Linked DNA regions of Homo sapiens: region 1 is linked to region 2. Evidence: fine-mapped expression QTL. A gene starts in region 2. The other region holds a variant in brackets. All regions are shown on one strand. Distances are from middle to middle. Region 1 overlaps LINC01102 (long intergenic non-protein coding RNA 1102). Region 2 holds the start of LINC01102 (long intergenic non-protein coding RNA 1102).

The links. PIP is the estimated chance that this variant, and not a neighbour inherited with it, causes the effect.
Region 1: its variant is fine-mapped to the expression of LINC01102 in putamen (GTEx, PIP above 0.99). The same link has a PIP of 0.9 or more in caudate.

What each region holds. Positions count from the first base shown.
Region 1 is chr2:104,503,993-104,509,377 of GRCh38, reverse strand. It overlaps LINC01102 (long intergenic non-protein coding RNA 1102), which reads right to left. Exons shown (of 4, transcript NR_015399.1): 2 at 3,075-3,512; 3 at 1,972-2,146. It overlaps LINC01103 (long intergenic non-protein coding RNA 1103), which reads left to right. Exons shown (of 6, transcript NR_110113.1): 2 at 4,190-4,510. Among named protein-coding and RNA genes, the nearest start is that of LINC01103, 3.8 kb to the left of the region's middle. The variant T/C (reference allele first, on the strand shown) is at 3,289.
Region 2 is chr2:104,432,310-104,437,694 of GRCh38, reverse strand. LINC01102 (long intergenic non-protein coding RNA 1102) reads right to left here and starts at 3,348. Exons shown (of 4, transcript NR_015399.1): 1 at 3,172-3,348.

The DNA of each region.
Region 1 (5,385 bases), 72 kb before region 2:
GTCAATACAGTTACTGTTATCAAAGTGCAATTTCCACCTAGAAGATATAAGTAAAAACCACATCACAACTAGAGGTTCCCAGTGGTGAGCTGCTGTCTCTCAAGGTGTACAAAGAGATGATTCACTGCTAGGGCATTGTAGGAGTAGTATCTACGTTCGGGGACACTAACCTTGGGTACCTCTGAGATCCTGTCTTTTTTGAGAGTTGCTAATTCTCTGGATTTCTTTGCTTTCTATTTTAATAATATAGATGGCACACGATTCTAGGTTTAAGATAAGACATGGAGAGTTTAGTGGATATTGCGTTGGGCTCTCCACATCTCGTTAGGACTCAAAACACTCCTTCCATCAGCTGCTGGGCATGGCGGTAGCAGATCAGCTGCCAGCCTCTTCCAAAAATGTCCCTGGCTGGAGAGAGCAGCCTAGCCCAAGGTCATGCCTCTTCCTAAGGAATTCTGTATTAGCCTTTGGTTAGTGTAGGGGAATAAAGACCTGACCCCCTTGCCTCAACTGGAGACCACATTGAAGGGCTTTTATCTTCAGAGCTCCCCAAGGTCAGCTGGACTCTGTTGAGTCCGGCTTCTCCCTCCCAGTCCTGCCTTGTTCCCATCCCTTCCTCCATGTGGGTCCCCATAGGTATCCTCACTCAGTCTCCTGCCCCATAAGCTCAGGTTCTGTGTCTGCAGCCTGGGGAGCCCCAGTAGAACTATTGTGTAAGAAAATAGGCCGGTCGTGGTGGCTCGTTCCTGTAATCCCAGCACTTTTGGAGGCCAAGGCGGGCGGATCAAGAGGTCAGGAGATCGAGACCATCCTGGCTAACACGGTGAAACCCCCTCTCTACTAAAAATACAAAAAATTAGCCAGGCATGGTGGCATGTGCCTGTAGTCCCAGCTACTAGGGAGGCTGAGGCAGGAGAATCGCTTCAACCTGGGAGGCGGAGGTTGCAGTAAGCTGAGATTGTGCCACTGCACTCCAGCCTGGACGACACAGCAAGACTCTTTCTCAAAAAAAAAAAAAAAAAAAAAGAAAAAGAAAAAGAAAATGCCTTTGATGTCATGTATGCAATGGGAGCCCAGGGCTCTTGTTAGAGTCTTGAAGGTGCCTTCGTCACGTTTGGCTTGCGGGGGCTAACAGCCAGCGAGTTGTGTCACACTGTGTTCAGAGAAAGGGGCTGCTCTGGGAATTTCCAACCATGCTCCATGGAGGGATCAGCGTGTGCACAGTGCTGGGCACACTTCGGTAGCTCAGTAAACATGTACTAAAAATTAAAAATATAAACTGCAAACCTTTACCCTGTGCTTGGATTTGGAAGATCCTGTAGACCATTCTGAGCCACAGAGCACACGTGGGTGCTAGGGACAAGACCAACTCTGGAGGTGAGGGATGACCTCCGCAGATTCTTGGTCAGAGGGCTATGTGAGAAAGAGATAAAACAGGCCTATAGTCCTGCCACATGCTCTGCAGACTGCAAAGGAAAACTGGGCTATCCAGCAAGGTTGACCGAGAAAACAGAGCAGCACTGTTAGAGAAATTCAGAAATCATTTAAAAGACAGAAAAGTTTACTCTCTCAAATATCGTGAGCAAATGCTGCAAAGTATAACTTCACCTCCCCCCAATTTTATATCTTCCTCTGATATTTTATCATAATACTTTTATGGCTTCTTCTGAAGTGTTTTGATATGATAATTTTTTTGCAGGTACCTTTCATATGCATCAGCTTATTGGCATCAACAAGTTAGATAATAAATTTAGCTACAATACAGAACTACAATAAACATAATATGTACGGTATAAAGGTCACTGGAACCAAGTTGACATTTTGTTGTATTTCAGCATAAAAATACAGGGCAACTTTTGTGAACATTATTAATAATTTGAATTCTGTACAACCAAAGACATCCAAACATATTGTCTTAAAAGAATAAATGCTCAGTCAATGCACAATAAGTTTCTGATTAAAGTTCATTACCTCCATGCTGTCCATGGACTGGGTGGGCCACTCTGACCATTAAGTTTTTCCAAGAGGTGAAATGGTTCAGTGGCCCAGGCTTGGGAGACCCAGTTGGGTTCAGATCCTGGTCCTCCCCTCGCCAGCTGCATGGCCTCAATCAAGTCACTTAGTTTTGACAGCTCAGTTCCCTCGTCTGTAAAATGGAGATGGAAATCATAGTACCTAACTTATAGAGTGGTTTTGAGAAGTTAATACACATTAAACACTTTGAATAGTGTCTGGCACATAATAAGCTATAACTAGCTATTCTTATTCAAATGGATTTTCTCCCCTGAAAAAATGCATTCAGGATATTTTGAGGCAGCTTGAGTCCCGTGTACCAGACATGGTTTCTCCCATTTGGCAATGTCACTGAAATGATATCTGAGAACCAAGCATTGTGCCAAGGTAAGGCAGACATCCACTCCCCATAGAAGTTTCCATGGGTTTTCTGCCATTTCTAGCTATGGGATTCATTTATCATAGCTTTGGGGAAATACTTTACCTATTTTATTTCTCTTGTCTGTAAAATGGACACAAAATACTTACCTATTTAGAGTTCAGTGCAAAATACTTGCTGAATAATTAGCTTACACAGTGTCTAGTAAGAAAGAATATTGGGGCCGGGCGTGGTGGCTCACACTTGTAATCCTAGCACTTTGGGAGGCTGAGGCGGGCAGATCACCTGAGGTCAGGAGTTCAAGACCAGTCTGGCCAACATGGTGAAACCCCGTCTCTACAAATATACAAAAATTAGCTGGACATGATGGCGGGTGCCTGTAATCCCAGCTACTCGGGAGGCTGAGGCGAGAGAAACGCTTGAACTCAGGAGGTGGAGGTTGCAGTGAGCTGGGATCGTGCTGTTGCACTCCAGCCTGGGTGACAGAGGAGACTCTATCTCAAAAAAAAAAAAAAAAAAAAAAAAAGGAAAGAAAGAAAGAAAGGATATTAGAGGTTGGAGGTGAAAAATAGCCTGTGTTACCATCTGCACTGGGATTTGGCATCCCTCATGAGGGGTTTGCAACAATCAGTTGAAGCACTATTATTGCATCTGCACTTGGGCATTGACAGGTTGGTCTTACCCACTGGATCCCAGTCATGCTGTAAACAGGGCTTGCTTTGGAGTCTGTCAGACCTGGCTTAGACCCAGGCTCTGACCAAATGGGTGAGTTATGCAGCTACTTGGTGGCATCTAATACCCTATCGCAAAGGACTGCCGTGAACAGGAAGGAGGTGTCAAATTTGGCAGTGCCTGATGAGGTGAGGCCAGGACCCAGGAACTTCTATTCCCTCCCA[T/C]GCTCAGGAACAGTAAGTGTTCTTCTATCTGCAGAGGTAGATGCTTAGCACATCGTGGGTACTTCACTCATGATTGCTAAATTTGAATTTGTGATAAGTCATTTCAAAAGTCAGATCTAGGACCAAAAATACAATATCTGTCAACATGAACTGTAGATCATGGTTTTCCTCCAGCCCAGGAATCTCCTTTCAGTAAACGCTTCTTCTCCAAATGTCTTCATTCCCTAAATAAAACAAACAAAAAAGTGGTAAGAGATCTGTTCATTTCAATTCCCACAATATAGGTTACAGTCAAGATTCGTAAGAGTTTTCCAATTTTAGGTATCTTATTTCTCTGTTCTCTGAAATGGGTACAATACTAAAGAACTGGCTAGGATTTAGTGTAAAGTACTTTCTCAACATTTGGACTGTGCATTTTATTTGTATCATGTCTCTCAAATTCAAATTTGTTAATGTTAACATCAGAGAGTAAATGACTAGAGATTCAGCATGCATGTCCACAAAGAGATACCAATGTGGGCTATGGGGGAAATAGTCATTATAACAACATCCAAGGGCAGACAGGAAAATTTATAGTCATGGACTAATTATCCTTTTCATCTCTCAAGTTTACATCACTGTGAAAATTCTTCCTCTAAGGTTAGGTGGCAGCTAATGTGAATCCTAACTCAGGTGTTGGATATATTTATTATGGTGGCCTTTCTTTAATGTTTCTACACAAAGTCAAGTGGACATGGACATTCAGAATACTACACATTCTGAAGCAATAAAATCTAATATGCTGTAATATTATTTCCTGCTTCTATTTAAGATAGATACTTAAACGCTAACTTACATTTTATTCAATCTTTAAGTTTTTAAAATAATGAATTTTCTCTACCGCATTCCCACCCCCTCACAGTTTTTGAGTCCACCTCGCTGGATTTTGTGAAAATAGATCCTTCACACACAACAAAGAAGGAACTTTCTGGAAGGCTGTACTCTGGAACTGCAGACTTCTCTCTCAAGTCAAGTACATTTCTGTTTTTCTTAAAGCTGCAAAACTACAACAATGTTTATATTCATATGAAGTATTTCAGCAATTCATAGCCAATTTATCAATGACCACGCAGCTGCAGGCACTGCAGTTTAAAAAAATATACCAGCTCACTTAGTGTTTACATAGGCTCTGAAAGCCCCACGTCCTGGCAGGGGGACGGGAGCCACCGGAGTCATTAGAAAGGTACGCTGGAGCGCCTGCCTGTGATGGTGGAGGGATGTTTGCATTATAGCCCAACACATCATTAAGGACACAATTGTTATTTAATGTGGCACAATCATCTTTCTACTCTTCATGAAATCCACTTAAGTAATTACCTTCTTAGCTCATTGGCTCTGTGAGCTGCCTGGTTAGAAAGGGTTATATCTAAGGAAATATTAAAAACCGGGCTCACACTGTTGCCCCTTTAAGCTGACTTGTATTTATTAATATATTCTAAATGAAGATCTTTCTTCCTGCCCTGAAAGAGGGAGGAAACTCCAAGGTAAATAAATGCTCTGGAGCATTGGCAGGGTTTAAAGGGAATAAGAACACATTAGCCAAAGTCTCCTCACTGTCAGCCATTCTTAACAAAGCAACTGATACCTGCATAATGCCTGGGCTCTTTGTAGTTTCAGTCTGACATCTGTTTTAGCCAATCAATTTTTCATTAAAGTCAAAATGCTGCTTTAAAATTTGCCTTGGCTTTCTCTTTTTAAGACAAGAACAAATTTATGACGAAAATATTCCTTTACAAAACTCGATGCAATAGCTTACTAAGCTGTGTGGATCTTCATAAGTGGCATAGTTTTGAAGACTCACTTTGAATAGTCTAGATATTAAGATGGAAAGTTTAAAGAACCCACAGAACTTATTTTCAGAGCACATTTAAATGTCTTTTAAGCAGATTTTTTTTTATTATGACGTGTCCAAGATGAGCTTGCAGAGATTCAGCATCATTTAAGGAGAGCAGAGCCGAAGTACAGAATTGAAATTACTTGAAAACACACATCTGCATTTTAAACTTTAAGCTCCCTTTCAAAATACACTGTACAATCCATGTTTACTATAAATACAGC
Region 2 (5,385 bases):
GCTGCTTCTGTTTAGTCTTTCCATATGGTATGTGTTCTTTGTAATCAGAAAGTAGTTACAGAGTATAAATAAACAAATACATGTAAATACATAGAGTTCTTTTTTTTTTTCCATACTGACCTTTCCAGAGAATGTTATGATTCTCTTTCCTCTGCCACTCATGACTCTTCCGTGGCTGGATCTGACCTGCTTAGAACTCATAAATCCTTAACATTTGGGGGGTGTCTATTCAGCCCAGTTTGCCTGCGTCATGTAAGTTATTTCCTTTGAAAAACGCACATACATTTTCACTGGGTCCACAGGCCTGGGGAGTTTATATGGGCCTAAAAGTGAGAATTGGTGTCTCTCAAATCTCTTTCCTCCCTTCATGAGTACTAAGAGCTAGGTGATGTGGAGCCAGGCTCCTGCTGGTACAAGCGCCTCCCGCTCTTCTATGTGCTCCAACAGCAATATTCACACGCTCGTTCATTCCCTCCACAGAGAATACTTGAGCACCCTCACTGTTTCCAAGACAGGGTAGGGTAGAAGGGTGGATAGAAAACTGAATTCTCTGTCTCTCGCCACAATTTACATTTCACTCCAGCTAGTGTTGTTTCTCTTACTTGGAGAGGGGTTCAGCTAATGAAATACGTAAGATCAGATTATGGTCATCACAATATTAGCAAACAAAAGGCATAGAAACTAAACTCACATGCCAGGAGTCACCATGACAGTCTTTATCTTCAGTATTTCTATCAGGTTATTATGTGTTGTGCTTGCAGATGCATTGAGCTATCATGTGTTTGGAACATATGGACTGAAACTTGGAAGACGACCTGCATTAGGCATAACAGACACCAAAAGCAGAGATATACAGACCTATGCTAAGGCATTGTGGAGTCCATCTTCCCAAATCACATGATAGCTTAAATTGTACTATAATAATTTGCCTCCTATAGATGGAGTTCAAGAGGAACCCATCAATTAATAAAAATATTATATCACTTAACATAAACCTTTGGTGTATATTACATGTATGATATGATAAATCAAACTATACATGGTATTACATGTATGATATGATAAATCAAACTATAGTTTAGAACTTTGCTAGCTATATTTGTTGATATATTTATTGATTTTAATCTTCAAGATAAGCTTTGTGACTGTTTAACAGCATCATTGGTTCAGTCTCTGTATATGAATATGTTAGATGTATTAGATCTATGTGTATATATTTATACACATATACACACACATACTGTAAGCATATATGCCTATACCTTTTTTATTGATAAATAAATCTTCTTTGAGCACCTTGTGTTCCAAAACTAGTGTTTGCATTTGAATTTTCTTAAAAAGTACTTTATTCTTGCTAAATAATTGTATTTAAGACAGCCGGTGTAGCAGCATAGCAGAATTTACTTCTTAAAACATTCGCTTAGTTACCTAAAGAAGTCCCTAAAATTCCAACACATGGATCCTATAAAAGCACTGACAAATTGCACAAAAAGCAAATTTGGGCTTTTCAATATCATCAATAGCTATGAAACAAGAAAGTGGCCCTGATGGTAAGGCTACAGCAAAAAGACTTACTGTTGGGTGATCCTGGAAATCACAGTCTATGGATCCAGACCTGCCAATCATGGCCCACACTGCCATTTTCCTCTTCCTTATGTGAGGCTGTGGCATATTTACCAAATGACATTTCGTGCTGTTTTCACACTATTGTTTCTTCAACGTCTTCTTTAACTAACTTTCATTTTGTTCTTCAATCTGTTGTATGTAATAAGTAGGGAGTCTATCAACAAATCACTAAAGGTCTTGGTGACTCTTCTCTCCCAAAGCGCTTAGCTAACAGGTGCAAAATAGTGAACTGAGAGATTTTGTGGTGAAAGGATAATTTATTGTAACGGCAAAGACCTCAGCCATTACATTTCAGAAATGGCATCTGGAAGTACCCCTGGAGCACCACTCCCCTCAAAACTCTGGAATGGCTACAACATTATGGATTGACAAAAGTTAATTTTTGACCCTCTACAAAGTTACATGTTGTGACTTATTTTGTTTTTGTTCTGGATGAGTGGGGTGAGGTCCCTATGAAGCTAATTGGTACTTTTCATCTTTTAATCTATATCCTATGTGGAATTACTTAGGCAGAACCCCAGAGTCAGAGTGAACTTTCCTTTCTGCTCCTCTCTTAAGCAATTTATTTGTCGTTTACTCTATCTCCACTTTTACCAGTTTGCTGTAATTTAATTTAGATTAATGATATGCCAATATGTGAGCCAGGGAAAAAACTTCTTTCCTTTATAGCACCCTATGAATTGGTCAAGGGCAATGACAATTTCAAGGAGAAATTTGGGCTTGAAAACTGAGCTCCCACCACTGTCAGTCCCCTGGTGCTTCGCCATCTTATCTAAAGCTTCTTCTGAGAACATCACAGCAGGTTGTCCCTGATTGCTAGTACATTCTCCTAAAGGTGGGACAAGTGTAAGAAGAGCATTTGACACAACCCAGTCTCTCATGAGATGACTCCCAATGAAGGTCATTGTTTAAAGCAGAGCCATATTTAGCAGCTCTTCAGGAAAACACCACAATGCATTTTATAAAACATACTAAGATGGCAAAACAGTTCAGTCCCATTGGAGGAGAGTCTTTATTCTCTATTTCCCCCCCTTCTCTAAAATGGGCGATTGCTTTTCTGCCAAAGCGGCTCAAAGGGCCACAGAAGCTAAGGTCCTTCAAAGCTGTTAAATGCATCTTCAAATTTACAATAAAATCAGCATGACAAATCTTCCAGTAAAATCTCTGGAGCGTCACAGCAGCGCCTATACAATTTTCCTTTCAGTCAGTATTTTAGTATTCCACACCTTGAGAAACAGGGAAAGCCAATGTGGGCGAGGAAAGCTAAGCAAAACAAAAACCAAAACAGAAAAAAGAAAAGCCACCACCAACAAAGACAGTGAAAAAAAAAAAAAAAGCAAACAGCCACGCGCGCCATTAAGCATATGCCAAAGTAAACAATCGGTGCGGGTTTGCCACGGCTGTGCCCTGCAGGTAGAAGGCAGGCAGCACGGGAGCAAATGGAAGGGGAAAGAGAAAGAGAAGCAGGAAGTGGAGGAGCCGGGAGCAAGGCGGCCTGATTGTGAGCCGCAAGACACACCATCAGCCATGCAAAACAGGACATACCTTTCTGGCTTGCTGGTTCTGTCGGCTGAGACAAAGCAGTCCCATTCGCAGCGGGAGGCCAAATCAAAATGAAATTTTATTTAGTCTGCACTGTCCCCAGATTGGGTTTCAGAATGACTGCTTTAGGAGATAGCATGGATGTGGCTGATGCATGCTTTGCATATGAAACTGCAGTAGGAAAAGAAATCTACATAATCAAAAAAATCTGTGCTGTGTGTGTGTGTGACAAAAACCCTGGACTCCAGTGATTTTGCTGCCGTGTATGTTTCAAGCAGGCCCTTTCAGGGTTGAAAGACGTTAAAAAAATTTCTTAAAATAATGTTATTAATAAATATTAATAAATCTATAACAGCCTAGTTTATGAAAATATATGCAATTTCCTGGTTACAACTCTGCCACATTAAAATAATTGTGATTTCTAGTTTATTTAAGAGTGTATCAAAAATCTGTGTGAGAAAACAAATTGAACTTAAAAACAAGTGCAGGCGATTTCTTTTGGAAGGGCGTTGTTCCAACAATTACTATACTCCCTCAACCTTGATAAAATAAATTAAAAGCTTAAGTCTTAAGCAATATGGAAATTAACACTAGGAGCCTCTTTGACTTTTCTCTGGGAAGACACTTAATCATATTTAGACACTATTTTAAAAAATAGGGCAAAAGTCTTTGAAAACACTCTTTAGACGCTGGAAATTATATTTTTGACATTAAGAAAAGGGACTGTAAAGTGTATATAGAACACATATCATGGAATCTCTAAATAGAGACATGTGTGCTGTATGTGTGTATTGTACACACACACACCTACTATGCTTTTAATACAGGGTTACCTCCTGCTTTGGGCAGGAAAAGGAAGTGATATTCAAGGTGCTGTGAAACAAGGGGGCAGAATAGAGCCTGTTGGTAAATATATATTATTTCTCAAAGAAATACTTATCCCAGCTTGGTTTTGATAGATCAGTTCCTTGAGGTTGAGTGCTGCCAATCATTTTCTTTAAAGAGGAAATAAAAAGTAAAAGAAAAAAGAAATAGAAAGAAAAAAAAATACCTGTATAAAACGACAGCAAAAAAAAAAAAAAAAAAAAAAGGCAAGACAGGCTCTCCCACTGCACGGTGCTCCGAAAAAAACATGGACTCTTGTAATTCTGTTTTATGAAGTATTCCCAAGGATGGGAAGAATATGAAATCTGCCCATTTAAGCTCTGAGGAGGCAGTCTCCAAGCCATGACCCAGAGCAGCATAAAAACTTCTCACAATAATGAGATACAAATAGCTCAAACAATGTGCTTCCACACACAGCCCCAGCAGAAATCACCAACAGCAGAACCATGTACTGATGTCCCTTAGAGAGACAGTCAAGCCTAATTCTGTGATTCAGGTTTCGACACCATTTTCTTAGAAAAGCTTTTCCCCGTTCCAGTTTGGATGGGTGGCCTGTCAATAATAATATTTACAAATGTAAAGGTCTTCTTAAATTGGTAATTTTGCATTAGGTACAAAGGCATCATGTTCAGCTGTGTACACCACCAGCATAATTAAAGCATAAAATCCAAAGACAGCAAATAACATGTGCCTCCTTTATGCTCCAGAACCACCACGTCCAGGTCTCCTTATAACAAGGGCAGTGCCTTGGTTTCTCTGTTGCTTTCAAGCAAGACCCTCTTTTGCCTTATCTTTCCATTATATCATAATTGTTCAGATATTCACTAAGCAGGAGTTTTGCCTGCCTATTATTTTTAGTGACAGGACACCCCTTTTCTGGAGGACGGAAAGATGTGACTTCTTAACAAATTCTCTATCCCCCAAATTCAGTGCACCTGGCTTTCACTTTCTACCTAATAAGCATCCGTGAATATGCAAATGTTCAGTGTCTCAGTAACCTCATTAATTTATTCCTCAGGCAATCATAGAATGTGAAGCGGTCCTGTGCCACTAGTACTGGATATGGTAGGATCAGGGCTACGAGAATCAGCTGAAAGCTCAGGCTGCATACTGAAACACTGTTTCATCTTTATTCCGTCTTTTGGCACTCTAATTCAAACAAAGACTCTTACCTTCCTCTACTTAGCTGACAGCCAAAAGCAAAACCAGAAAAAAAAAAAAAAAGAAAGAAAGAAAAAAAGAGAAATGCGTAGGGTTAGTAATTAAGATCTTCCCTCCACCACCAAACACGAACCAGAGGTGATCCATGGCTTGAACAAAATCTCCACAACA